4 linked regions of the Homo sapiens genome follow. The protein of the gene in region 1 purifies or fractionates together with the protein of each later gene. This does not show direct contact. Each region holds a gene or a part of one and is shown in the gene's direction. Other genes may lie near its edges. The genes, in order: RC3H1, CNOT11, CNOT1 and CNOT7.

Evidence for each region.
Region 2: the proteins of RC3H1 (region 1) and CNOT11 purify together in Homo sapiens (affinity purification with mass spectrometry, with the first as the bait; 4 studies listed by BioGRID). This does not show direct contact.
Region 3: the proteins of RC3H1 (region 1) and CNOT1 purify together in Homo sapiens (affinity purification with mass spectrometry; 5 studies listed by BioGRID, with this or other methods). This does not show direct contact.
Region 4: the proteins of RC3H1 (region 1) and CNOT7 purify together in Homo sapiens (affinity purification with mass spectrometry; 5 studies listed by BioGRID, with this or other methods). This does not show direct contact.

The regions. Positions count from the first base shown.
Region 1 is NC_000001.11:173,930,106-173,935,987, reverse strand, and holds the end of RC3H1 (roquin-1), read left to right. Parts: 3' UTR 1-4,904; downstream 4,905-5,882. UniProt on the Homo sapiens protein: Post-transcriptional repressor of mRNAs containing a conserved stem loop motif, called constitutive decay element (CDE), which is often located in the 3'-UTR, as in HMGXB3, ICOS, IER3, NFKBID, NFKBIZ, PPP1R10, TNF, TNFRSF4 and in many more mRNAs.
Region 2 is NC_000002.12:101,248,669-101,255,885, forward strand, and holds the start of CNOT11 (CCR4-NOT transcription complex subunit 11), read left to right. Parts: upstream 1-4,217; 5' UTR 4,218-4,296; coding exon 4,297-4,810; intron 4,811-7,217. UniProt on the Homo sapiens protein: Component of the CCR4-NOT complex which is one of the major cellular mRNA deadenylases and is linked to various cellular processes including bulk mRNA degradation, miRNA-mediated repression, translational repression during translational initiation and general transcription regulation.
Region 3 is NC_000016.10:58,534,870-58,542,977, reverse strand, and holds part of CNOT1 (CCR4-NOT transcription complex subunit 1), read left to right. Parts: intron 1-409; coding exon 410-550; intron 551-642; coding exon 643-747; intron 748-1,357; coding exon 1,358-1,477; intron 1,478-3,018; coding exon 3,019-3,210; intron 3,211-4,063; coding exon 4,064-4,206; intron 4,207-4,711; coding exon 4,712-4,820; intron 4,821-4,917; coding exon 4,918-5,087; intron 5,088-5,757; coding exon 5,758-5,989; intron 5,990-8,108.
Region 4 is NC_000008.11:17,242,750-17,250,883, reverse strand, and holds the start of CNOT7 (CCR4-NOT transcription complex subunit 7), read left to right. Parts: upstream 1-4,026; 5' UTR 4,027-4,209; intron 4,210-4,288; exon of another isoform or gene 4,289-4,726; intron 4,727-4,952; exon of another isoform or gene 4,953-5,027; intron 5,028-5,636; 5' UTR 5,637-5,731; coding exon 5,732-5,848; intron 5,849-7,261; exon of another isoform or gene 7,262-7,442; intron 7,443-7,698; coding exon 7,699-7,892; intron 7,893-8,134. Other genes in the region: VPS37A (vacuolar protein sorting-associated protein 37A), read right to left, coding at 3,515-3,639. UniProt on the Homo sapiens protein: Has 3'-5' poly(A) exoribonuclease activity for synthetic poly(A) RNA substrate. Its function seems to be partially redundant with that of CNOT8.

The DNA.
Region 1 (5,882 bases):
TCTCTTTTCATGTATTTTCATTTGGGGGAAAAAAAATCTCTTTAATTGTAACCTGAATTCAAGCTGTACCCCTCCATGGTCCTACACTCTAGAGCTAATCTGGTTGGGCAGAAAGGCAGAAGGATGGTATATTGTCCCATTGTGCCTATAATGTATTTTAAATTGGTCATTCCACCTTACCTAATGGAAATTCTTGCAGCTTTCCTAGTGCTCATCAGCGGTTTTAGGAATTCACTAACACCCCCAAAATTTGTTTTTTGTTTTTTGCTTTTTTTCCTTTTCCTTTTCTCTGTGATATCATGAGCCTGTAAGGACAAATGGCATATTTGGGCATAACTGCTTGACTCTGTAACTACTTTTTTAAAATCAAAATTGAAAAGGTATTAATTGCTTCTGGCTTTTTAATTTTTTTTTTTAGAGACAAAGATGAAACCAGATAGGAAATACAGTTTTTATGTTTTCTACTTACTAAAATATTAGTTTCTTCTAAATATTACTTTATTTGTATTTCACTAAATTCCAAAGCAAAAATCAGATATCTGAGATGAACAATTTTGAATGGGTTAAGGTAGGAGTAATAAGCATTGTGTTCACTCATACATAGGTGAGGGAATTTTATTTATAGCGAGAAATATAAAAGTATTTTGACTTACTCTTTTTTCAAGGAGTCGCTAGGAAAGGGTAGAAGAACTGAGAATAAGACATCTAGATTCCATTTCTGGTTTATATGTAGCTCTTTTGCCTAATTTATATATAATTTTGTCATAAGATAAGTCCAGTAACTGTCCTGTCTTAGATAACGTACAGAGGCTGAAGTGACCAAAGATCCATTCCTTATTACTTTTCTAATTAAAAGAAGAGTTAGCTAGATTTCTAGTAGTAGTATTCTAGATATTGATAAGACATTATTCCTAATGCCAACTACAAATATTCAACTACTCAGAATGTATTTAAAAAATTGTTTGGTACAGCATTAATGTTGGTGATTCCTTTCTCCCATCTTATTTCCCTTCCCTTCTATTCTTTCCCATGTATTTCTTTTGCCTAAAAGAATATTGGTATGATTCTCATTTGCTACTTTGAGTATATAACTCCATCAGACTTTCCAGAGTTCTTCAGGGATGGAGCTCAAAGTTTACATTTTTCCATATATGTCTTTTTTTTTCTTGACCTTTTTCCACCCTGTAATTTCCCCTTGACTTACCCACTGCCCTCCCCAATCTGCAACAGTGACAGTTTGCTGCCTCAAAACAGAGCATTCAAATGAATTCGCTTAGCCAATAACTTCTGTGAAGTTGCCTTTTCTAATGGTGTTATTACTCAGTGATGCACAAATGTGGTATTTGCCCTACTGGTAGGCAAACAAAGGTCTGGTTAAGAATGGTAACCTGCTGTTTTCTTTAAAGGAGAGCCAAAGACTTGTGCTTTACTCTGTTTTGGTTTTGGGGGAAGTAGTAGCCATTTTGATCATGAAACCTTTTAGTATTTGTGAGTTGATTGTACTGTGTAAGTAGATTTATCTAAAGTTAACTGTTAAAGTTAGCTAGCCTTATAAAATGTAAAAGTAATGAAAATTCATCAGTTTCTCTAAGCCAGTGAATGTCGTCTTTTGTAATATTGTGTATAAGCATTTGTGCCCACCCCAGCTTCTGCTATCACTGTGGTCAAGTCATGGGTCTGAGTAAAAGAATTCTTGAGTATGTGACTGGTGAGAAATAACTAACTATAGTCAGTACATGTACAGATTGTTAAAATTCAAGACAAAATACTTTCACTAAAAAAAAGGATTCGTCTCAGTAAAGAAGTATTCAGTTGCTGTCACTTACATACAAATGGTGGTGGGTAGCAGTCTCACCATTTTTCTACTCTCTTTTTGCTCGTTTTAAATAATTGAGTAAAGGTTTTATTTGTAAAATCTATCTGTAAAAAGCACCTGTAACGATTTATATGTCATTGAAAGGAATGGCCCAGTTACTTTTTAGGAGAGATTAATAACCTACCTGGAAATTAACTGCAGTGTTTACTTAGATTTTTTCCCCCTAATAAGAGTCTAAGTGTGTTAAATTTTTAACTGATGATATGGTTACAGTGTTGCAAGGTGATCTCTTCCCCTGAAAAATCTGCCTATCCTTTTAAGAAAAATTAGACCTACTAAACTAAAGCAAATTTTACTTTCATCATTAGCACCTAAACAAGCAAGCAGTCTACTACTGTCATCATTTTACCTGAGTGCCCATTTTGCTGATCCACATTCATACCTTTCTACCTTGGACAGCTATGATTTTTATATTTATTTGTTGCTTCAGCTCAGGTTTATGAAATTTTCCTGCTGAAATGACTTATTGGGAGTTGTAGGTTGATTATAGTTACTATTAAACATTTTCTCAATTTAGCTTTTCTGAGCCACTTCAAGAAGAAAGCTGTTTTTGTCAAAAGGTACTATTAATTGTAGCAAGTAAATCTTAAGATTTGAATTTTTAAGATTTTATTTCTGTGTTCACTAAAGATCTTTCCACAAGTAATAGATTATAATTGATAAGTAATACTAGCTATAGTGTTAATAAAGAGTAAGACTATCACCACCAGGAATAAGTAACACCTTTTAATAATAAATCTATTCCTAATAGGTATGTTTTCAATACTGCACTGAACAAAGTGGGTAAAGAGCCCTTTGAAATCTTATTGTAATAAAGGGACTTACCTCACCACTGGAATCCTTGTTTTCAGAGCCTCTGGATTTTCAGCCAAACACTGAATTTCTCCTAAACTTTATCCCTGAAACATCCCTAGAGAACGAACTTTATTTTCACAAGAAAATAAGGCACAATAAGGGGGAAGAACTTAAACCTCAACATAATATCGTGTCCAAAAATGTGTATTTAGAAAAATAAAATCCTGTGGAGTTTGTTATCCTAATGTTTATTTTATACTAGATAAGGTGACTTGTTTTCTTGTATTGAGGTCTTACTGTTTCAGATTTGTTTTTGTTTCTGTTCTAACTCTAAGCAGACAGAGCTCACAAGTCTTTGGCATCCATTTTAGGTTGTACACTCAGAGTCATCTTATAACTGGAAACTGTCAGGTGGTCCCCCACCCCAGTGAGTGTATGAAAGAGTCAAGAAAAAGATTGGAAACAAACTATTGGGTGAATAATTGGTTGCTCTATTATTATTATTATTATTATTTGCCTTTTTTTAATCACCATTTATTTGTGTAATCTTTCTCCATTGATTGGCTGTCATTCTTATAATATCTGAACTACCCCATAAAATAATTCTCTGACTTAAAGGCATTTAGCTTTTGCTTATCGTTTTTACATCCTCTATTCAACTAAGACACTGTCTTGAGAGTTATTTTTTCCAGATGGATCGTTGGCCTAAATTTTCACACTTCTCCCCTGTTCATCCTTTTTCCTCTTCCCTGCTTCCTGGGAATAAAAGGAACTTTTTTAAAAAAATTAATTAGTCCACAGGTCTCATTATCTTTCTTTATGATTAATCTATGACTTTTTGGTACAAGAACAATGGAAAAAGTGAATTAAGGTAATGAACAAAACCTTTCACCCACTTAAACATTTTCCAGTTTTGAGATTCCTCTTCGTGTTTGTGGTGTCTTCCCCTTGTTACCCCTTCTGCCCTTTTTCTCTGACTATGGTAATTTGGTCTTTAGGCTCATATCAGTCTCCCCGAGACATTCTGCAGTCATTATCACCTTTTTGGGTGGATTTTATTTTGTTTTATTTTGTTTTTTTTAAAAAAATAACTTTTTAACATTGGTGCATATTTGCTTGGGATAGAGCTTGTGTAATTTACCAATCGTATTGATTGTAAGTGATTGTGCCCTGCAGAGGTATATTTAACAAGACAAAAATAATCTTGGTTAATAAAGGAGCCCATGAGATTTGAGTCAGGTTGTAAGTGAAATCACTTACACTTTTGGATAGAATTTATACTCCTGCTCTTATAAATCAGTGGTAGACTTACCATTTTTTAAAGTTTTCTTGCATTTTTTTGTTTTTTTATTGCCACAGCTCCCTATTCTTTCTTGCCTGCCTCCACCCCCCTGTTCAGGAAAAAAAAAAATTGAGCCTTAAAGTGACAGCTGATTTTTTAATTGCTGAATTTTGTGAAATTTTACTTTTTCCAAGTGTTTCCAACTTTAAAAAGAGAAGTGAAGACAAATAGGTTGGAATGGTGAAGACAAATGGATTGGAATTTCACAGGCTGTGAATAATTCCTTAGGATCTGGCAAACCGTGAAGTCTTATTTGAAGACCTTATCTCCTGAGAGTTCTTTTGGAGTAGGAAAAAGAACCCTATTTGAAATAGACCGTTTTTCTCTTGTTTTTAATCTGTTTAATATTTCTGATTTTTAAGCAGCTTTCAAAACAAGTGTGGTGGAAAAAAAGAAATAGTAGTAGGAAGATGTTTAGGGCAGCAGAACTCTGGGTCTAAATAAGTACATGTTCCCACTTGTTGCCGATTTTTGAGAGTACTAGGGCCATCTTTCTCAATTTTGTATTATTTGTGTGCATGTTTATATCAAAGATGCCCATTTTGTTAAAATGCTATTTCCTTTATTACCTTGGAAACTGACTCAGCCTCATGTTGCTCCTAATTAGTGTTTAAGGCTCCCATGAGTTGCAGATAAAATGATTTATTTTAACAAGTAGAAGGAGGTGATTCACCTTTTGGATTGTAAATATATGAAAATGTCTACAAGGTCTTTATCTGCTTTCTGTCAGCATTTATATTAAATGATAAATTAATGAGGAACGTGTGTATTTTGTAAATGAGTGTGTGCCATCTTATTCTAATCTTGAGATTACTTTCTTACACGTTTTTAATGGAGGGGGCTTTTTTAGGTGAAAAATAAAGAAATGGCTAATCTGCATGAGCAAACACATACTTGGAGTAGCCAATTTTGTGTGGACATCACAGGAATTAGTCCAATCTTAAATAAGCTACAGTCATATTCCTTCATTTGTCACACAGTGATTGCACATTAGGAGTGAGGGTAGTGGTTCTGAGATACTAGCATCAATTCAATGAGATTCAATGGCTAACATCCAGTGTCTCGGTTTTTATGGCGCTTCTGAAAATTAGGACCATCTTTATGCTTAAGTGAAAAGGACTTGTCATGGTAACTTCCTGATGCAAAATGTTTTTTTGTCTTTCCATTTTTTTTTTTTTTTTTTGAGATGGTGTCTTGCTCTGTTGTCCAGGCTGGAGTGCAGGGGCACAATCTCAGCTCACTGCAGCCTCTGCCTCCCCAGTTCAAGCAATTCTCTTGCCTCAGCCTCCCAAGTAGCTGAGAATATAGGCCTGCGCCACCATGCCCAGCTAATTTTTACATTTTTAGTAGAGATGGGGTTTCACCATGTTGGCCAGGCTGGTCTCAAACTCCTGATGTCAAGCGATCTGCCCGCCTCAGCCTCCCAAAGTGCTGGGATTACAGGCATGAGCCACTATGCCCAGCCTTGTCTTCCCATTCTTGCTGACTTCTGATTGTCCTGAAATCCCCACCCATTAGTCATTCCTCGAAGTTAGTGGATATAAGTAAGTTTGTCTAATAGAGACCATACGTTAGTCAACACCTCAATGGCATGAAGAAGAAAAGGGAGGAGGTTGGGTGTGGTGGCTCGTGTGTGTAGTCCCAGCTACTCAGGAGGCTGAGGCGGGAGGATTGCTAAAGTCCAGGAGATCAAAGCTACAATGAGCTATGATGCTTGATCGCACCACTACACCAGCCTGGGCAATGGAATGAGACTCTATTATTCTAGATTAAAAGAAATGTAAGAAGTACAAAAATCAAATGCAGCATAGGTGATTTTAGCAAACCAAATACACAAAAGACTTTTGTATACAGGAAAATTTGATTAAG
Region 2 (7,217 bases), on another chromosome or scaffold:
CACACTTCTGGAATTGCTTAGTGTCACGTGTGTCCATATAAACCACCTAAACAGGCTTTGTGTGAGCAACAAGGCTGTTTATTCACTTGGGTGCAAGTGGGATGAGTCCAAAAAGAGAGTCAGCGAAGGGAGATAGGAAAGGGCAGCTTTATAGGGCTTGGGTAGGCAGTGGAAAGTTACAGTTAAAGGTGGTTATCTATCGTCAGCAGAGGAGGGGGTCACAAGGTGCATGGTGGGGAGATCATAAAACTCATTGTCCAGAAGAAGAATGTCACGAGGTCAATTGATTAGTTGGGGCAGGGCAGGAGCAAGTCATAATGGTAGAATGCCATAAGGTGGATTAATTAGTTAAGGCAGGAACTGGCTGTTTCACTTCTTTTGTGGTTTTTTGGCTGCTCCAGACTTCTTGGCTCCTGCAGGCCATCTGGACGTGCAGGTCACAGGGGTTACAACGGATGAGCTTTGGCTCAGAGGCCTGACATTCCTGTCTTTTTACTTATAAAATATAAAGTTATAAGAAAAGATAAAGAAAACATAAGTTTTTACTGGGGATTATTGGGGTAGGGGTTATGTTAATCAGGGCTGCTTCTGGCATGACTTAGGGGCGACGTGGACACCTAAAGAAAGTTTAATTTTATAGTGAGTTGGTCTAGAAAGTTTTTAGGTACAATTCTGTGTGGCTAACAAGGCACCAGTTAGCATATTTTGAGCTTGAAATTGTCCTAATAAATTCTCTAAAAACAGCAAATAAGCATAATAGCGTTAAGGTAGGTGTCAGTGAGTTTCTATGCCAAGGTAGGAATAATGTTTTAGGTACCAAAGCCTTTTGTCCCCATTTTCCATCATATGAACAGGATTCCCTGTTATTTAGGCAATGATCTATTATATTACCCTTTTCCTATAGGTGTGAGTGGTGGTCCAGATGGAGAAGTTCAATAGTTCTGATTGCAGATCCTATGCAGGAGAGATAATAATCTTTGTCTCCTGGGTTAAGCTAAGGCTGGCAAAGAGACAAATGTCCCAAGCCTTCTAACAACCAGTGGCATAGTTTATGTTGTCCTGGATGCTGGTCTGGTTGCCAAATATGGGGAAGGAAATGAGGGGCTATATAGGAGGCAAGCCAGAGGCTTATATCCTACGTGGTAATGGTCATGAAGGGAAAAGAAAAAAGAAGCAAAAAGCAGCCCAAGAAATCACTTATTTTCTAACAAAGAGCAGCCTGAAAGATCGAGCTGCAGACATAAATAAGGAAGCTGGAAGCTTGCACAGGGTGATGCCAGCAGCCACACAGACACAGCAACCTGGGGCCATGCGTGTCCACCATGGGGGCTCCACCTTCCCTTTTTTGTTAGCATGTACACAGTAGGAAAGAGATCAGTCACAAGAATAGCTACCTGCCTGCATAATAAAAGACTGGGGTGGGGGCTGCCAGAGATTCACACTCTATGCAGATGGCACACCTAGTCCTAACCGGTTTTCTTTTTGAGACAGAGTCTCTATCACCCAGGCTGGAGTGCAGCAGCACGATCTCGGCTCACTGCAACCTCTGCCTCCAGGGTTTAAATGATTCTCCTGTCTCAGCCTCCCAATTACCTGTGATTACAGGTGCCCACCACCACGCCTGGCTAATTTTTTTGTATTTTTAGTACAGACGGGTTTTCTCCATGTTGGTTAGGCTGGTCTTGAACTCCCGACCTCGATGATCCACCCGCCTCGGCTTCCCATGTTTTTTATTTTTTTTTTAAGATAAAATAAAATGTTCAAATATTTTTGAAACATCTTGGAAAAAACCCACACAGCATTAGTATTACTACATTAATAACTGGCAATTGGTATAATTACTACTATTAAATAGTATTAGAACTGCAGGAAAATTACAATAACAAATAGACCCATAGACCACCCAATGTAAAATGGCTTGCACAAAATACAGTTTATTATAATAACAAAAATTTTTTTTTGAGACAGTCTCACTCTGTCGCCCAGGCTGGAGTGCAGTGGTGAGATCTCGGCTCACTGCAACCTCCACCTCCCAGGTTCAAGCCATTCTTCTGCCTCATCCTCCCAAGTAGCTGGGATTACAGGCATGAGCCGCCATGCTCGGCCAATTTTTATATTTTTAGTAGATTCGGGGTTTCACCACGGCCAGGCTGGTCTCAAACTCCTGGCCTCAAGTGATCCACCTGCCTCGGTCTCCTAAAGTGCTGGGATTACAGGCATAAGCCACCTTGCCCAGGCCCTATAATAAAAAATTTATGAGAGTACTTTTGAGCTAATTTGAATCAGTTCCCCAAGTTACCACATTATATCTGCTGCTGTTAGGAACGTTAATTGGCAGGATCTTTCTGAAGTGCAATTTAGCAGTAAATTGAAGAAGCCTTTAAAATTCAGTAGATATCACACCTGTTGACCCAGCAATTTCTCTTCCTTAAATTTTTCATAAGAATTGAGGTAGCAAACCAAATATTACACTTCTAAGTGGGAGCTAAGTTATGAGGATGCAAAGACATAAGAATGATATAATGGACTTTGAGGACTCTGGGGTGGGAGGGGGTATACGTGGGACAGGGCTGAGGGATAAAAGACTATATTTTGGGTACTGTCACGCGCGTCCGTGTGGAGACCACCAAACAGGCTCTGTGTGAGCAATAAAGCTTTTTAATCACCTGGGTGCAGGCGGGCTGAGTCTGAAAAGAGTCAGGGAAGTGAGAGAGGGGTGGGGCCATCTTATAGGATTTGGGTGGGTAGTGGAAAATTACAGTCAAAGGGGGTTGTTCTCTGGCAGGCCGGGGCGGGGGTCATAAGGTGCTCAGCGGGGGAGCTTCTGAGCCAGGAGAAGGGATTTCACAAGGTAATGTCATCAGTTAAGGCAGGAACCAGCCATTTGCACTTCTTTTGTGATTCTTCAGTTACTTCAGGCCATGTGGATGTATATGTGCAGGCTTGGGCTCAGAGGCCTGACAGGTACAGCGTACACTGCTCTGGTGACGGGTGCACCAAAGTCTCAGAAATCACCACTAAAAACTTATCCATGTAACCAAAAACCACCTGTACCCCCAAAACTACTGAAATACAAGTTTTAAAAAGATGAAAAAAATTTTTTTTACATAAAATATCTTTCTCCCCAAAAACACATAAAATAAAATAAAAATATGTTTTAAAAAAGAATTGAGGTGGCTCTTAACTAGATAATTAGAATCGCTGGTGGTAATCACTGGCGAAATACGCGTACGTTTCTGTAGGTTTAGGGACCGGGCAAGTCTGGGAAATGCCACCTGGTGGTTCTCAGCCCAGACTACACCTCAGACTCACCTGAAGAGGTGGGGTTTATTAATATCTCAATCAGCATCTCTGGGGGTGGAACTAGGTATTTGTAACGTCTCCCCGTGGGTTTCTAATGCACAGCTAAGTGCCCAGGATAAGTGCCCTAGGGCAATCTAAGTAAAACGTGGCACAGCAAACAATTTTGTAAATGAATATTAACTGGAGACATGTTCTCGAAATCATGTTAAGAGAAAAAACCATGTACAAAAAAGCTCATAGTGCAGTATGATTCCATTTCTGCAATGAGTGTAAGACTAGAAATTAACCGTGGTTATGTGAAATGTGTGGTATATTTGCATTTACTAAATTAAAAAAAATGTTTCTGAGACAGAGCGCCCGGGCTGCAATGCAGTGGTGATCACAGCTCACTGCAGCCTGGGACTCCCGGGCTCAAGCGACCCTCCCGCCTAGGACTCTCAAAGTGCTGGGATTACAGGCACGCGCCACCACGCCCGGCCTGCATTTACAATACTTTTTACGACGAATACTTACGGATGTTATATTAAGAAAATAGTTAACATCTGAGGTGCATTCTTCCAAATAATAACGTAGACAGCACTTACTGGGACCGTCTGGCACCAGGAACCGTCCTGGGGACCGCCAAAGGGCGGCTTAACCTCGCAGCTGCGCAGACGCATGCAGTCCCCGGGCTCTCCTGCCGCGGGACCTCGGCAGACCTAACCCTGAACGCCACCAGCCCGACCTCGCCCCGCCCCTCCCCTCCCTTCCCGGGCCCCGCCCCCGCTTCCTGCCAATTCGCCCCGCCTACCCCGCGTCTCCGCATCCTCTTCCTGGCTTCGCTCCATCAGCCTCGCTTTCGCTGGGCGCTGTCCCTCTCCGCGGCGGTCTGGTTTCCCCGACGTGTTTTGTTTGCGACGCTGTCGTGTAACAGCGCGCTTTACGGCCGCGGGGACGGAGCGAGCCGGCGCCAGGGCCCCTCGGGCCGGGAAGAGGGGAAGGGGAGCGAGGTTGATGCCCGGCGGAGGGGCGAGCGCGGCGTCTGGCCGGCTTCTCACCGCCGCGGAGCAAAGAGGGTCCCGGGAAGCGGCAGGGTCGGCGTCCAGGAGCGGCTTCGGGGGCTCCGGCGGCGGCAGAGGCGGAGCAAGCGGCCCCGGGTCCGGGAGCGGAGGCCCGGGGGGCCCCGCGGGCAGGATGAGCTTGACCCCGAAGGAGCTCTCGAGCCTGCTGAGCATCATATCGGAGGAGGCGGGCGGCGGCAGCACCTTCGAGGGCCTGTCCACCGCCTTCCACCACTACTTCAGCAAGGCCGACCACTTCCGCCTGGGCTCGGTGCTCGTCATGCTGCTCCAGCAGCCCGACCTGCTGCCTAGCGCGGCGCAGCGCCTCACGGCGCTCTACCTGCTCTGGGAGATGTACCGCACCGAGCCGCTGGCCGCCAACCCCTTCGCCGCCAGCTTCGCGCACCTGCTCAACCCCGCGCCGCCCGCCCGCGGCGGCCAGGAACCCGACCGCCCTCCGCTCTCAGGTACCTCCTGAAGCCAGCTGTGCCGTGTGGATAGCGTTAGATTCCGCAGCTTTCCACCTGCGCTGCTGGGAACTCACCTGAAAGGGAAATTAACTATCCCTGTGAAATGATCATCCTCTTTTTCCGCCTCTCTCTGCGTTCCCACGCCCCTCACTCCTCCCCGCCTTAACTCTAAAGAATGGAGAGGTGGTAGCTTAATTGCAAGTTCGTGACACCGAAAATGATTTCTCTATACACCCCATCACATCATACAGCTCAGTGTAGGTCTTGACATGTTTAGTGTCTCAAATACGGTTCGTTCTTCGAAAACCCGTCTGTGGTGTGTGAAGTTAAAACCAATGATAAGACTGGATCTGTCCCCGGTTTTTAGTCTCAAAGGAGTACGTGGAAGTCAGTATTAAGAAGCTGAAGAAGTTGGTGGGCGGAAATACACATGAAACACCTTAAAGACTTTGCAGCCGCCTTTCTTAGCCTGTTAGGGATGGGGGCAGAGGATAGAAAGTCTCAAATTGATGATCTCGCGTTTGGAAACACATGACTTACTGGACATTATGTAAAGTGCATACGTGGTATACATTATGTAAAATGTATTTACTATTGTGTGGCATTGGTGAGATCAAACTAGTAGGTTAGATGCGAGGCTGCATTTTTTTTTGTTTTTAAGCTCAAGCAGGTGATGCTTTATGTGGATTTGCTTTGCGAGAAGACTTGCAGTCAGAAAACAAGAAAAATGGCATGTTGACAACGGGACCTGAAGGATTTAGGAACCAGTGTAGTGGAGGAAGCACACAGAGATAGGAAACAGCTTGATCTTACATTCCTTAACCAGTATAGGTAGGGCCTGCTATACAGTGAGTCAAGGCTAGGCAGTAGATTTTGAAGTAACACCAGGAGTTTGTTTTTATGGTACAGGAGGGCCGCGTTTCTAGTTAGTGTTCCTGCCGGGCATCCCATCAGGATCTTCTGATAGGTGTCCTGTAGTGCCCTTATCTAAGAAGGGCAACCCTTTGTATTGGCCTGAGATGCCTTTAGGGTACAGGTACTTAACCTGCTTCTAAGAAGCTTGTGACTGCCCAGAAAGTGAATGTAACACAGGTTTGTGGTCAAAACTCACCACCTAGGCCTGGCTAGGTGGCTCACGCCTATAATCCCAGCACTTTTGGAGGCCGAAGTGGTGGAGGTTGGGGGGTGGGAATTGCTTGAGGCCAGGAGTTTGAAACCATCCTGGGCAACATAGTAAGATCCTGTCTTTACAAAGCAATAAAAAATTTGCTGGGCATGGGGTGGCTAACACCTGTAGCCCCAGCTGCTCAGGAGTTTGAGGCAGGAGGATCACTTGAGCCTAGGAGTTTGAGGCTGCAGTGAGTTAGGGTGACAGCTTCTAAACACACACACACACACAGACAACCACCACCCTAGGGTGCTTGTATTAGAGGATTGGGACACTGGGATTTAGATCAGAGGGCCCTTTGAATTCTGAAGAACAAGTGAGGCAAAGAAACCGTGACTTATATAATGTCATTCTCATGTACAGTGAATCTAAACCCACACCTAGTCCGTAGACCGCATTATACACACAGATTTGCCATAGGTGGGATGGCAGTCACCAGAGAAGGAATCCATGGATGGATTATATTTAACCATTTTGTGCCTCAGATTCCTCATCTGTAAAATGCAAATAGTAACAATTCCCAGCTGGTAGAGTTGTTACAAAGAATAAAAGTACCTGTGAGTGGGCTGGGCGCGGTGGCTCACGCCTGTAATCCCAGCACTTTGGGAGGCCGAGGCGGGCGGATCACAAGGTCAGGAGATCGAGACCATCTTGGCTAACACGGTGAAACCCCGTCTCTACTAAAAATACAAAAAATTAGCCGGGCGCGGTGGCGGGCGCCTGTAGTCCCAGCTACTTGGGAGGCTGAGGCAGGAGAATGGCGTGAACCTGGGAGGCGGAGCTTGCAGTGAGCCAAGATTGTGCCACTGCAATCCGGCCTGGGCTAAAGAGCGGGACTCCGTCTCAAAAAAAAAAAAAGTACCTGTGAGTGTTACCCACTATTATACCATTATTAAAGTAGGTAGGGATGGTGTGTAGATAACATAGAAGAGAAAATATCAGTGCCTACACTCCACTCCCAGAGCTGCTGATATTGTATGTTTAGGGTAAGACATTTAGTGGGTATGTCTTCAGAATGCTTTTCAGATGACTCTGAACAGAGGCAGGGCTGCGATTGTGTAATGCTGGGTAGTTAAGAGGAAGGAACGACCACCTGTGGAGCTGGAGAAATTCTCAGGAGTGATATTTTTTGCTGGATATTGATTAGGGATGCAGGAGGGAGGGCAGGAGTAGCTCTGCCAGGTATTATTAAAAAACTGGGTGTAAGGCCGGGTGTGGTAGCTCATGCCTGCAATC
Region 3 (8,108 bases), on another chromosome or scaffold:
GGGATTACAGGCATGTGCTACCACGCCCCACTAATTTATGTATTTTTTTAGTAGAGAAGTGGCTTCACCATGTTGGCTAGGCTGGTCTCAAACTCCTGGCCTCAAGTGATCTACCTGCCTTGGCCTCCCAAAGTGCTGGGATTAGAGGTGTGAGCCACCGCGTCTGGCCTGCTTTACTGATTTTAAGGCATGTTCACAATAAACTGATAAGGTGTCTAGGATATTTTTGTCTTAAAAGTGAGGAAGCTGTTAAGACTGTTTCAAGATCACAGCTTGTTCATAAGTAGAGTCAGAACTTAAAATGCATTTGCCAAATGCACTGCATTTTCTACTATCCTGTCTGTCCACATCAACTTTCAAGTCTTTTTCCTTCTATTCCCCCCACCCCCCCACCCACCTCCATTAATAGACTGCTTCCCCACAACAAAGAGAAATGATGGATCAGGCAGCTGCTCAATTAGCTCAGGACAATTGTGAGTTGGCTTGCTGTTTTATTCAGAAGACTGCAGTAGAAAAAGCAGGCCCTGAGATGGACAAGAGATTAGCAACTGTAAGTGTTTAGAATTTGCCTTTTAAGATTTTCTTTTTTAATTTAGGGAAGTGCCTTATAACAAGAACCTCAGTGACTTTTTTTGTTTGCAGGAATTTGAGCTGAGAAAACATGCTAGGCAAGAAGGACGCAGATACTGTGATCCTGTTGTTTTAACATATCAAGCTGAACGGATGCCAGAGCAAATCAGGCTGAAAGTGAGAATTGGGGCTCTGTCTTTCCCCGTCCCATCTTTGTTTTATTTTTAATGTTGTTGTTGATTGAACTCCTTACTGGAATTAGGACAGCAGGGTTAAATATTGTTTATGAGAAAACATCTTAACTTGATAGCATTTCACTGAATGGCTGCCTGTGGAGGAGGTATGGAAATAGCTCTAAATTCCCTTGCTCCTCCAGAGTTGTTGAAGTGTTATTACTCTAAGGAGTTCATGTGCCTGCTAGTTTTCATGTTTCCCAACTTGGGCTTCTCACATTAATGGTTGCTTATTGTTCCCAGTGAGACAGTGAGAAATCTGATAATATTTACCAGCTTCAAGGGAGAATTGCACTGGCATCGTCCCATGTGAGGCATTTTCCAAGAGAAACTCTCAGTTAATTTATAAATGAGGTGACTCTTAGCAGGATTCAGGGAAATGAGAAGCCCTCTTCTGAACTGCATTTGTGTGTGCGTGCATGCTTAATCATGCTGTTATATGTTGTAATGACTCTTGTGTCCCTGAGCTTACCCACATGCAGACTTTCCACTTTCAAAACAGTTTATTTTGATTATTGAGTGAATTCTGTCAAAATAGGTTTTCTTCTTTCAAGGTTGGTGGTGTGGACCCAAAGCAGTTGGCTGTTTACGAAGAGTTTGCACGCAATGTTCCTGGCTTCTTACCTACAAATGACTTAAGTCAGCCCACGGGATTTTTAGCCCAGCCCATGAAGGTAAATGTGTTTTAGATTAAATTGAGTGTTTTGCCAATTAATTTAAATGTTTTTGACATTTAATATATGTTTTTGACTTGCTTCCTGGGAGAATAATTTACAGGGGAAAAAACACCTATAGTTTTTGAGTTGTAGGTATTCTTTGTGTCCAATTAAGTATGACATACAGGGGATTAAAGAAAAATTGACATGGGTGTGGGTGATTTAACTTTAATGTTCGGCCTAATTAGGGGAATTCTCATGGTAACATAATAACTTTCGGTTTTTTATTTTTAAATTTTATTATTTATTTTTTTGAGACAGGGTCTTTCTCTGTCACCCAGGCTGGAGTGCAGTGGCGCGATCTCAGCTCATTGCAACCTCCACCTCCCAGACTCAAGCGATCCTCCCACCTCAGCCTCCTGAGGAGCTAGGACTACAGGCGTGTGCCACCATGCTCAGCTAATTTTTGTATTTTTTGTAAAGATGGGGTTTTGCCATGTTGCCTAGACTAGACTCAAACTGCTGACCTCAAGTGATCGCCTACCTTGGCCTCCCAAAGTGCTGGGATTACAGGCCTGAGCCATTGTGCCCAGCCTTCCCATTTTTTAAATAAAAGAATTTTCTAAAATTTTCAAAGGTGTTTACAGAAAACTTGGAAATATAGGGAAAAATATTTTCCCCCGAACCGGTCGATAGTAAGTTGCTGACCTGATACCCCCATCGCTCCTGAATCCTTTGGTTTGTATTTCTTACAAAACCTTTTTCCTTTGGTTTGTATTTCTTAAAAAACCCTTTTCCTGTGTGACCATGGTACAACCATTAAGGTCAGAAATGAATACTAATAACCTTACTCCATCTAATTCATAGACCTCACTCGAGTTTCACCATGTATCCCAATAATGTATAGTAAAAGACCTGTTTTAGAATCACACATTTCTTCAGTTGTCATATTTTTAAAGTCTCCCTCAGTTCTAGCTGGTGTAGGTAACTCAGTTTTTCCTCATCTTTCATGACCATAACACTTCTGAATATTATAGGCTAATTATTTTCTAAATGACTTGATTTGTTTGTCCAGTGTATTCTCATGACTAGGTTCAGGTAATGTGTTTTTAAAAATAGGAATAGCTCAGAAGTAATGCTGTATTCTTACTCTATCCTATCAGGCTTTGACAGTTGGACTGAGTACTGTATTTTTCATGGTTTGAAACACTTACTTTCTTAGGATATAGAGGGCTTAGTAGATGGTACAAGTGGTGCTGCCCTCAGTCTGTCTCATTGTTACTAATGCTCTCTTTTATCACTTGATTATGCTGCTGTCTGCCAGGTTTTCCTCTCTCAAATGAAACACCTCTTCCCTTATGCCTGCCTTGTACTGTGCCACTTGATGGTATTAATTCTGAATAGCTCAGGAAGAAGGAAAAGAAGAGGCCCTCCATGTTTGAATGTAAAAATAAGAAAAAGGGAGTAAACATACTAGTAGACCTCTATTTGATACATGTGTCAATAAAAAACCTTAACATTCTTTTGTCTCTTGTTGGTTGTTTCCTTCTGTAAAACAGCAAGCTTGGGCAACAGATGATGTAGCTCAGATTTATGATAAGTGTATTACAGAACTGGAGCAACATCTACATGCCATCCCACCAACTTTGGCCATGAACCCTCAAGCTCAGGCTCTTCGAAGTCTCTTGGAGGTTGTAGTTTTATCTCGAAACTCTCGGGATGCCATAGCTGCTCTTGGATTGCTCCAAAAGGTTGGTTCTTAAGCTATTACTTTTAGAAAATGCTAGGTGTGTAAACATTTATTGACCTGCACCACCATCTACATATTTATGCAGTTATGCTTAAGATTTCATAATATAAATCAAGTTCTGTAAGTAGGTGATTTTTTTTTTTTCCAACGTAGAATGTAGTCATGGCAGTTTTGAATGGTAAACTTGGAAATCTTCATTTTTTTTCTTAAAGATATTCTGGAAATGTGATTTGAAGAAACTTTAAAAGGTAGCCCTTTAGAGGGGTGTGTGTGTCTGTGTGTGTGTGTGTGTGTGTGTGTGTAAGAGACAGGGTCTCTCTCTGTCAGGCTTGAGTGCAGTGATGTGATCATGGGCTTAAGTGAACCTCCCACATCACCTTCTCGAGTAGCTGGTATTACAGGTGCTCACTGCCAAGCCAAGCTAATTTTTAATTTTTTTGTAGAGACAGGTCTTGCTTTGTTGTCCAGGTCGTTCTCAATCTCCTGGGCTCAAGTGGCCCTCCCTCCTGAGCCTCCCAAAGCGCTAGGATTATAGACATGAGCCACTGAGCCCAGCTGCCCTTTAGATTTTGAGGGACAAGTTGATCCAATAATTTGGATCAGGGTAGGTAGGGAGCCCTGGATTTTAACTACAGCAGAGCCTTTTATGACAATGAAGAGCACAGAATGAACTTAAATCAGATAGAATTTAGAGTGTGTGTGATAGGCAACTGAAAGGGATGTTTGGAGAGTGGAAAGGACAGGGAGGCTTTGGAAGGTATTTGGTACTTGGCATTGAGATTTGGTTTCTGGCTGTGATAGTTGGGCCAAGCACTGTATTTTTCATGGTTTTGAACGCTTTCTTTCTCCCATAGGCTGTAGAGGGCTTACTAGATGCCACAAGTGGTGCTGATGCTGACCTTCTGCTGCGCTACAGGGAATGCCACCTCTTGGTCCTAAAAGCTCTGCAGGATGGCCGGGCATATGGGTCTCCATGGTGCAACAAACAGATCACAAGGTCAGTAGCCATCTTCGAAAAGTAGTGAGTATTGGACTGCGACTGCCTTTTGACATAGATAGTACTGTTTATGTCCAGGGGTTTCCCTTTTTTCTAGTAGGTAGGTCGGACACTTAGACTTCCTACTTCTGAGAGGTGAGAATTGTTAAGTAGTTGTTTTCCATCTGGTCTCTACCTTCTCCCCATGTTGGATATAGAAAACCAGTACCTTGTTTTGGGGAATAAATTGTAGGTCATTGTTTTAAAAGGTTACAGTGATTTCTCAGAAGTGGTATTCGTGTATAAGTATTTTAATGTCTTAAATGGAATACTCTGTATCCTAGGATTTGAAAGGAAAGCTTGGGCTATCTGTTCTATTTCATTACTGGCTGTTTTTAAATTTGGACACTGATTTGGAGTTGAATCTCAAGGCATTCTTAGTTTGGAGCAAATTTCCATTGAGTAAAATGGGCCCTTTTACAGTATGGTTAAGCCTATATGAGTAAAGATATTGAACTTTTTCTAGGTGCCTAATTGAATGTCGAGATGAATATAAATATAATGTGGAGGCTGTGGAGCTGCTAATTCGCAATCATTTGGTTAATATGCAGCAGTATGATCTTCACCTAGCGCAGGTATGGAAGGAATTTACTTGCACGGACAAAAGGACTCAGGGAAGTACGTTTGCTCTTAAGTGTTTTCCCTCTCACATTATGTTTTCTGTGTTGCCAGTCAATGGAGAATGGCTTAAACTACATGGCTGTGGCATTTGCTATGCAGTTAGTAAAAATCCTGCTGGTGGATGAAAGGAGTGTTGCTCATGTTACTGAGGCAGATCTGTTCCACACCATTGAAACCCTCATGAGGATTAATGCTCATTCCAGAGGCAATGCTCCAGAAGGGTGAGGATGAAATGCTTTGAGATCCCTGTGCATTTAGTAGTCTTCTAATATCTTTAGGAATGAATATGCAGACTTACTAACATTACTTGTTATAACTGCTTTACCAACCACATATGGGTGGGTAGCTTTGGTAAGGGCTAATATTGTCACTTGAAGTATGAAAGCCTAATTGACTGCCAAGTCTTCTTGGCACAGAGCAGTACATACGGTACCAGACTTAGTGTCAGAGTCCTATGTTTAAGCCCTGGTCATGCCACTTAAAAGCTTTCTGATTTTAGGCAAATTGACTTATCCTCCTTAAACCTATTCTTTATAGAAAATGGAAATAATTTCTCAAAGAACTATTGGAAATCAAGAGAAGTAACGTAAAGAAAGCATGGTACATAGTAGGCAAACAGTGAATATTTGTCGACTCTGAACATCAGTTTCATTTAAATGAACACGTTTTTTGGGCAAGAAGTAGCTTAACTGAGGGCAGTTGTTTGTGTGTTGTATGCTCATGAGCAAGCGGATAAGAGACTAAGTATAGTTTTGTTTCAGTGTGGAAGTGGTAAAGCGAAGTGGTAAACCACTCTGGTGGTTGCTGTTAAATAAGCAAACTATACATGCGTATGTCTGTAAAATCACAACTACGAGGAGACTGATTTTCACCCTTTATTTATTGTGCTAGATTGCCCCAGCTGATGGAAGTAGTGCGATCCAACTATGAAGCAATGATTGATCGTGCTCATGGAGGCCCAAACTTTATGATGCATTCTGGGATCTCTCAAGCCTCAGAGTATGATGACCCTCCAGGCCTGAGGGAGAAGGCAGAGTATCTTCTGAGGGAATGGGTGAATCTCTACCATTCAGCAGCAGCTGGCCGCGACAGTACCAAAGCTTTCTCTGCATTTGTTGGACAGGTAGAGCTTTTGGAAAGAAAGGTGCTTTTTATTCAACATAAGTAGGGTGTGATGCCTCCAATATTAAAGCTCAGTATTGCGTACATGTGGTCAGACAGTTACCTCCATACTCATGCAAACCCAAACTGTCATCATTATATGGTTAAATTACAGCCTGTTTTCTCATGGTTGATCACTAAGCAGTAAAGGCAACATTCCCTCCCACCGTTGGTTCTGTATATTCCATTTCAGTTGTCACAGCTACAAAGTACAATGGGTCAGATAATGAATAATAAAACTACCAAATGTATTTTTACTAGCACTGATGGGACTGTGGGCTAATAAATATGTAAAATTCTCACAGTAGCCCACATTAAAAAAAAATGACAAAACAAAAATGCTTATTTAAATGGTAGAGTGTTTTATTGTATTTTCTAATTTAAATATCTACCTAAACGTAGTGACATGTTCCTTTGGAAAATACTTCCCAGTATTTTCATTAGATTTGATGCAAGTTGGACTTTGACTTAAAAGGGTTAGGAACAAAGCACCTAACTGAAAATCAAGTTTGGCAGGAATGTTTGTGAATAGGATGAACAGGAAAAATGTCGGAACCGAGCCATAGTACCATTTAGCATTCGTTTTTTATTATCACTGGTTGCTTTCAGCGACTGTGAGGGAATCAGACACAATAAGTCCATGTGTCCTAATTTATAATATAACTTGGCAAGAGTGGTACTTTTCCTGAATTGACCTTGGAATTTCCTTTATTAGAACTGTTGTAATTTTTTTTCAGGGTGAGTTGTCTGCTTATTTCTGCAGATTGACCATTATATTTCTTCAAACTGAACCCAAAACTTTTAGGTATATTGCTAAAGAAAGATTACAAATTAGGTCTCTTTTCAAATTAATGACAATTGAATGTGGAAGAACTGACTTCAATTCTAGAAGTTATTTGAAACTAGGTTTACTTTTCAGCCAGGTGCTGTGGCTCACGCCTGTAATCCCAGCACTTTGGGAGGCCGAGGCAGGCGGATCACGAGGTCAGGATATCGAGACCATCCTGGCTAACACAGTGAAACCCTGTCTCTACTAAAAATACAAAAAAATTAGCCGGGTGTGGTGGCGGGTGCCTGTAGTCCCAGCTACTCGGGAGGCTGAGGCAGAAGAATGGCGTGAACCCAGGAGATGAAGCTTACAGTGAGCCGAGATTGCACCACTGCACTCCAGCCTGGGCGACAGAGCGAGGCTCCGTCTCAAAAAAAATTAAAAAAAAAAAAGAAATTAGGTTTACTTTTCAAAATGAATGTTACTCAGTAAATCATACCGAGTATATTTCTCCCCTAAAAGAATCCAGGGAATTACAAAGCATACCCTACTGAAAAGCTATTACTGCATGTTTTATAGTCTGATTTATAATTTGAATGGAAGAAATTGGAATCCATTGGTCTTTCTGATCATTGCTATTTCGTGGGTATGGATGTGGCACCTGTCTCAGCCCTTCCTGCTGGCTTATTTGCTCTCATTTCATCTTTCTCTTGAAAAAGATAGTGTATTATACTTTTCTGTGCTGTTTTGTATCCTTTTGAAAATTCTTTCCTTCTTGCGCTCCTCCTTGACCATAGTACTCAGTCCTAATATTCCTCACTCTCTGTTAGTTTTACAGATACCAGTGTAGACAAAAAGTCCCTTTGCCATGCTGGCATTCTGTCCCAGCAGGGTACAGTATTATCGTAGTCCAACCAGTTCAGTTGTCTTTACTGCTTATCAGGAACAGTTAAGTTGTTTCAAAAATTTCAAGATAACCTTGAAGTTTTTTTTTTCGGAACTTGGTTTCTGTGTTTAGTAAGTAGTGAACTGTTCTTCCTCTGTAGCCTTAATGCATATTTTACTGTTGTCTTTTTTTGTTTGTTTGTTTAAAGGGTTGAGGGGAACTAGCCAAATAACATTCCCACTGTGCTTCACTTCTAGTTCATATGTCATATAGTTTCTAATTTTTCCTTTCTTTTAAATAAACTTGTGTTTCCCACATTATTTTAACTTAATGTAACATTTTATTACATTAAAATACCTAGATCAGATTTGTATTTCCATTTGGTACTTACCTGTTGTACAAATTATTGATTTTTCTGGGGGTAGC
Region 4 (8,134 bases), on another chromosome or scaffold:
AACACTTTGGTTAAACACTTTTCTGTGAGTGTCATCTATGACAGTTATCTCATTTGCCGTGCATATTGTTGAGACTCAGATGAAAAAATTTACATAAAATTCACCTATTTTTTTTGTAGAAGACTGAGGTAGCTGAGGAGATAAGAATTTAAGGCAACTAAAAAGTTCACAATCATTAGAGAAAGGGACAAAAAGAGACTGCTGAAGTGGAATTTTCGGAATTATAAGGGGTTAAAAATTGTAAGAGTTGGAAGGGAGATGACAGAATGGGGTAGAGAAAGGTTACTCAGTAGAGCAGAAGAAAAGATACTTTCATGGCCAAAAAAAGATATTCACCTATTGAGCTTACATTTGGAGAAGAGACATAAAACGAAACATGAGGGAGATGGACAGCATGTAACAAGATATTGATATTCCTCATGTAACAAGTTTTTGTACTGTTCATAGGAAAAAACACACTGGAAATTCTTTCAACTTTTACACACCACACCTTTAGAATAACCAATCTGTCTGTTCGCACAAAAATCTTTTAAGTGTAAGTCGTACCACTAATTTAGGTAATCAGGCAACATATTGCCAGTATTGGGGCTCAGAAAACAATACCCCAAAATATTGCACTTTGGTAGGCTGATTACTTTGAATTAAAGGAGTCTGGAGGGCCTCAGAAGTAAAGCTCTCTCTGACCACCTCCTGCCCCTCTTTCTCCATTGAAGAAGTCATAGAAACCAGAATTCCTCCTCCCCTGGGCGGTATATTACAAACTACAACCCTTCTTCCCTACAAAAAATCTAGAAAGGTCACTTTCCCTTCCGCCCTGAAGACCCTCACTCCATATGAGCCCGGGCCGGTCCACTAGAGGAGTAGAAAGTTATACAGAGAAGCCAAGAAAAATCTGAACAAACAGGCCTTGGTGGGTTTCCCCTACCTCTGTCTATTACCATTACCATACTCTTTTTGTCCAATCACATTTCTACATGGCTGTCCATTCTTCATTGAACCTAATCATAAATACAGACAGTTTTCCTTCGGTCTCTGGGGCTTCATTTCTGAAGGCTCCCATGCAGTGTAAAACTTTGATTAAATAAATCTGTTATGCTTTTCGCTTGTTAACCTGTCTTTTGTTACAGGAGGGTCAGCTGTGCCCCTTATGACTGATGAGAAAAAATATCACACCTTTTCCATCTTTACATCAGATACCATACAGACAGATTATTTTTTACCTCCCAGCTTACAAATATATGTCATTATTTAAAAGGGTGGACTAACAAGAATAGGTGAGTGGCATTTTCCAGGATTGTGCCATTCTTTGAAAACTGGAAGCATATGACCTACTTAAGTGTCTCCGGAATTATTCGAGTATAATTTGTAAATGCGAAACATCTCAATAAAACTTCAAGTGTTTTTATAAAAGAACTTAAAACAATAAAATACTTAGTTATTTGTTCATAACACTACAAAATAAATTACATTATCTAATGTAATCATGTCCAATCATACGTTCATAATTTCTGGTTCAAAAAATAATACATAAAATGAATCCTTTCTGTATCCAACTCCGCGTATTTACTGATCCTCTTAAGCCAATTCCAGAACTCTTTACATTAACAATTGCTGCTATAGAATCTCACTTTATTTGGGAGGCCAAAATTATAAATTTCACATCAATTACTTCCCTTACTTACCAGCCTTAGCAGCAAGAGACTTTGTAGTATTTAAAAAATTAAACTCCAACCTCGAAGAAAAAAATTAGTCAGCATTGAAAATATTTAACATAATACTACATACTAAGGTTTAAAAGCAATTAATTCCAAAAGTGTGGTTCTAAAAAAGTGTTTCTGCAATAGCAGGACTGGTTTGGTATATAGTCTACCAAGGTAACAACTTCTAAGGGAACAAACATGTTAAAAACGAGTCCCCTTATTTTATAAGCATACCTTGTGAGAGTAGCTCTTAAAGGTCAGTACAGAACATGATTTGGAGTAAGAGTGACTTGTAAGAACTTTGCGAACTTAATTTTCCAGAATGAAAGCCACCAATAACAGCCTGCCATTCTTTTCTGTTAAACAGCATAAAATTTCACCTTTTGAAAGTTCTGAACAAACAGAACAATTGAGACAACGAACCAAGAAACACCTAAAGTTCAGTCAGCATCAGGCCTTATTTTAGCCAAACTGATTTTGCAGTAAATTTTTCTATTAACTAGACTATTTAATTAAAAATTATTCCATTTTAAATAAGAATTATTCGATATTATCTGAGGATACATATTTTTTAACTGTATGAAAATAATATTTTTAAAAGGGCTAGGAGCCCGGCGAGGTGGCTTATTCCTGTAATCCCAGCACTTTGGGAGGCCGAAGCGGGTGGATAATCTAAGGTCAGGAGTTCGAGACCAGCCTGACCAATGTGGTGAAACCCCGTCTCTACTAAAAATACAAAATATTAGCCGCGCATGGTGGCGCGCACCTGTAATCCCAGCTACTCGGAGGGGTGTGGGGAGCTGAGGGAGGATGATTGCTTGAATCCGGGAGACGGAGGTTGCAGTGAACCGAGATCGCGCCACTGCGCTCCAGCCTGGGCAACAGGAGAGCCGTACCCCCGGCAAAAAAAAAAAAAAAAAAAGGGGTTAGGGACTTAACAATGTTGTCATCTTTATTTAAAATAGTGTGAAACTGTTAAGTAAATATACTTGCAAAATGCATAAAATATAAAGAAGCAGTTCTAATTTTTGAAAACCATTAGAGACCATAGACATTTGCAATGTAAAAGGCTGCAGCAAACCAATTTACAGTAAAAGTTGAAATAATATGAATTGTAAAAATATTTCTAAACTGACCATGATAAAATGAAAAACTCACAGGAAGACAACAGAACAATCAAGATGAACATAAAGTAATTCTTGAGCGTGGGGACAAGACTATGAAAGAAGTGAGAAATGTACATGCACTGGTCGCTGTGAGATGGGGAGAGACTGCTCCAACAGGGTAAATCTTAGAGACTCAAGAAGACTGACTACGTGATAAGTGACTCTCAGACGAGAAGCATTCACTGATGAAAACTCTGGCTTCCCTTTCCTTTGATGTTGCAACAGTTCTATTTTCCATTCTTTGTGAAACCTGGAGATTACTCTTCACAATTGTATTTTAACAATTCTGCTGACGCGGCAATCAGGTGGGCAAAGGGAAAGATCAGTGGCGAAGCCTGGGCAGCAAGGGATACTGGAAATAGACTATGAGAGAGATTGAGAGATTACAGTCAGCAGCTATGTGTCAGGAGGGATGAGGAAATCCGAGTTAGAAGCGCTGAGCAGTGGTGCGGCAGGAGGCAGGGAGGGTCCGGAGGAAAACAGTAAAAGGGGGCAGGAGTGGCAGAGCAAGCGTGTGACCCACAACCAAGGGAGGTAAACCACATGAGGAGCTGGTGGGGAGCAGACTGAGGCGCTGTGAGGGTGGTTAGGACAAGCCCGCCCTCCCACCCTACTTTTTCCTCCGGTGGAGAGGCAGCGACCAGTCACCTGGAGTGTGAGTTCCGGAGGGACTCGATCAGGCGCTGCTTCTGCTGCTGGAGGCTGGTGAGGCCACCGGGGGACCCAGCCGCGGAGGAGGAGGCGCTCTTGGTCAGGGGAAAAAGCCAGCTCATCCTCCTCGGGTCCACGGGCCGGAGGCCCTGGAAGGCTCTGGCCTGCTTCTCCCAGTGGCTCGGCCCGGCGGTTCTCCAGCGACAGAGGAGCGGGGTGGGACGTCCGTGGCCCAAGCGCTGGGGACCGCGTCTTCTCTAAGCCTGTCCTGCCTGCGCTCCCCGAGTTCTGGGGGACATGCTACGAACGGCGGGCGGCTGGAGAGGGAAACTTGCGGCCCGGAACAGGAGGTCCCACCTTCACGGCCCAGACGCCCAAACCGGCCAGCCAGGGAGCCTGGCCGCCCAGCGCTCCACCACCCGCGCCGCCGTCACTTGCGTGCCCCGCCCCCGGGGGCGCTCTCCGCCCCCTCTGCGTGTCGCGTCATCATCTAGCGCCCCCGTCAGGACGTGCGAAAAGCGACGGCGCAGCACGGTGCGGCGCAGCTCCTGCTCGCCTTTCCCTTCGCTGGGCGAGAGGTGTCTATGGGGCACCCGCTGCCGCCGCCGCTACCGCCACCGCCACCGCCACCGCCGCCGAGTGCTGTCTCTATGGCGAGGAGGAGGAGGAGGAGCGCGAGCTCAGCGACACAAGTAGATCTTGCATCCGCTGCAGCCTTACGGGGGGAGGGGCGGGTTAGGGAAGTAGAAAGGGGGCGGGGACGATGAACCTGAGAGGGTGCGCGATGGCGCCAGCTGGAGTGCGGCTGGCGGAGGAAGGAGCCTGGCGGCGGGTTGGGGGCTGGGTAACTGGGGCTGGGGGTTTGTCAAGGGGTTGGCGCGTAGTGATGACGCAAAGGCTTTGTACCTGGGGCTTCGCAGTGGGACGGAAATTGGGAGTGGAGGGCGGTGGCCTAGATCCTCACCTCTTCGTATTGTTTCACGCGGCAGTGCTTGGGAGTCAGTGTAGCTCCAGTCAGTGTTATCAGCACCTTCGCACTGGCGCTTTGCCAGGGAAGAGAGTTATCTATGGCTTGAATACCTCGGTGCCGTCCTCTCGTTTCTCTGGGAAACTGCAGTACGGAGATGCTTTCTCCAGTAATGAGAAGGCCTTTGGTGTCTCTTCGGGGCTTCTGGGACTGCAGTAGAGAGAGAGGTGGAGGAAAACAATGTTAGACTACAGGGTCTTTCCAAGTCTTTGTGTTTTTGTGCTTATGTGTGTGTGTGTGCCTATCGGGGTGGGAGAGTTATAAAGGAGGGGTGTCCTGGATCTCCTTTAGTTTCTCTACTTGGAGAATTGGAAGTTACATTTGTGACTCTTCAGAGTTTAGAAGACAGTCATAAGACCCTCTTTTTACTCTTGTTTTTTTTTTTTCCAATTTGTATGAAAAATGCAGAAGGATTTGAAATTTCCCTGCCCAAGAATCAACAGGAACTCTGTTTATAGACCAGAAATGTGACATCTATCTTTGGTAACCATGCAATATGCTCTAAGTTTTAGACGTTCTATTGTGTTCTTTTTCCGTTCTGCAACTGCGAACATTCAGATAATTTTCATGGCCGTTACTTTTTTCTCAGAGCATTTACAAACATTTTTGACCCCTCTAGTCTAGTTAGAATAAACGCCGGTAAAGTAGATCTTGTTATCAAGTCGGATTTTGGTTGTTTTATTAATGAGGAATAAAAATAAACACCATCTTTGCCATGGTAACATCTGATCTTGTCACATGTAAATAAGTAATTTTTCATTTTTTGTCTGGAAATGGATGGCTTTATAAAGTTTTATGCAGAGTAGTTGAACTCAGATAAATAATTAGTGGAAAGTTATAAAATATGATTAGTATGTATGTGTAAAAAAGCTATTTTAAAATAACTGAAATTAGGACCAGGAAATCTGTACTGTAGTCCTTTTTTTCCTATAGACTAGCTGTGTGACCTTAAGTTACTTTCTAAACTTTGATTTTTTTTTTTTATGAGTCAAGAACTTTGAATAAATAACTTCTTAGGTTCCTGCTGGATCAATTATTCTGTGATTCAGATTTGATATATCTGGTCTTCATATTGTTTTTTTATTTTGACAGGTACATAAATAAAGGATAAAATATTTTATGAAACAAATCTTCAATCAAGTATAACATTTTGATGCTTGGCATCTAGACTCCCTTGTGCCCTCACTATGCCAGCGGCAACTGTAGATCATAGCCAAAGAATTTGTGAAGTTTGGGCTTGCAACTTGGATGAAGAGATGAAGAAAATTCGTCAAGTTATCCGAAAATATAATTACGTTGCTATGGTATGCCCACAAGCAGATCTTTAAAACGCTTCATATAAAGGAGGAAAAGGAAATTTTAAAGTCTTGAATTCAACCCTTTTGGTTGATATTTTTAGGGATTAATTTCACCATGAAAAGTAAAATTTGTCACTGCCCTCCAGCCAAAATCCATCAGGAATACACCTGTGATTTGACAGGTTGGGTTTATCCCTCATTGCAGTGAGGGAAAACGCACTGGAATTCATGGGAACCATGGGCCGTTTGAATAAGAGTTAGGAAGGATTTGGGCTCGTGTCAGGTGGTCTTAGGGGAAGGTAAGGGAAGCAGAGCTTTACTGTGGATTGGATGTGTTCGGGAAGCTGGGGTAATTCTGTGATTGGGTATCTTACTAAGTCTTAAATGAGAGACTAGAATGAGGTTAAAGCTGCAGAGAAGGAACAGTCATTCATTTAGCCAGGATGGAGATACTTGGTCATTTTGTGGTTTGACATTTTTATTTTTTTGTCCTTGTTCAGACATGATTACAGAGTGGCCTTATTTGAGGTTGAACTTTTGTGAAATTGTGTTCAACAGGAGAACATTAGGGCGTGGCTATGAGTGCCAGGTCTGCTCCTAGCAACACCAAAGCCTAGCTGGTAGTACCACATGAGCTCCCAGAAGCTAGGGTGCTCTTTCTCAAACAAAAAAATCAGATGTGCCAGTGAAACGTTGTTGGTCTGCAATTTGTTTTCATAATTAACACTGGAGTTCTGTGAATATACTGTGTTACTAAGCAACTCTGCTTTTGCACGTGCTGTTTGGTCTGCCTAGATTGTCTATCCAGTTAATGATTTTTCTTCTTTACCATTATACTGTCTATATCTGTTAGCTACCCTACTGTTTTCTACATCCACTGGATTATTATTAGCTCCATAAACCAAGTGTTTTAATCCTTTCTCTCCCAACACCTAGCATAACACATATAGTATTCAATAAAGTGGCTGTTGAATTGCACTGAATTTAGAGAAATATTGATTTCTTTACTATTTCATAGTGACTTGATAGGTAGTTTTTATTCTTAGCTAGCCCTAGTTTGAATTCTAATACTAAACCGATGTATCTTTGTCTCAGTATTTTTAATAAAAATAAACAAATGCATTACTTTGGGGAGGAGCAAGTTGATTGGTTAAAATATGACTGTTTCTTTGTAGATGACATACTATTTGATAAAGGTGTACTTACCCATGATTAGAACTAAAATTGTTTTCTTAACCAATGGAAATTCATAGTGATCATTGATTTCTCAGATGATAAAGAGTGGCAACATAGAGAAGTGATAACATCCTACAAGAGTGAGTAGGTGGCATGCAATTCTTGACAGCATGCTTTCTGTGGACTATAGAGAGAATATTGTTTAAGCCAGAGAAATTAGGAAGCTAATGATGTTTTTCTTAGGGTTTTGGTGTTGAGAAAAACCTTGTGTCAGAGAAGCAATTGGAAAGTACAGGGCGTTTTCCCCTCTTTTGAACCAGTTCTTCAAGAAACTTGGTTTTAGCATTGGAATACTGTGAGCATCATTTCATGTATCCTTTGGGAGACAGGAATTTATGATTTTCCCCCCTTTCTTGGTTATAGAGTAAGTATTTGGTTAAATTTATCACATGTATCTCGTATAGTAACTTTTTGGATATATTTAAGGAAAGGTTATTAAGTTTATAGAGTTTTATGGTTCTAAAAAGTGATGTTCTTTCTAGTTAAAATATACTTTGTAATTGAATATAAATGTGTAGAATATCATCTGTAGGATTCTTTGATTTGCATCAAAAATTAAAAATGTGTGGATTGTAGTTTTGACTGTTTAGTACATAATGAATCTTAAAACTATTTTACAGGACACCGAGTTTCCAGGTGTGGTTGCAAGACCCATTGGAGAATTCAGGAGCAATGCTGACTATCAATACCAACTATTGCGGTGTAATGTAGACTTGTTAAAGATAATTCAGCTAGGACTGACATTTATGAATGAGCAAGGAGAATACCCTCCAGGAACTTCAACTTGGCAGTTTAATTTTAAATTTAATTTGACGTAAGTGGGAAATAACTGTATAACCCAGACTTTTTTTTTTTTTTCTTTAATCTTAGGAATTGATTTTCCTCAAGTATGGTGACATGCTAGGTGAATTTGGTGTAGTTATCCTGGAAATATATAAAACGTAACATTTCAAAAGCGTGGTTTTCTTTTTTACTATGGGACCAAAAAAAATACTTTGATGTTAAAGATGTTATATTTAAAATATGACTGCAGCTTTTTTTGTATTTGGAAGACTG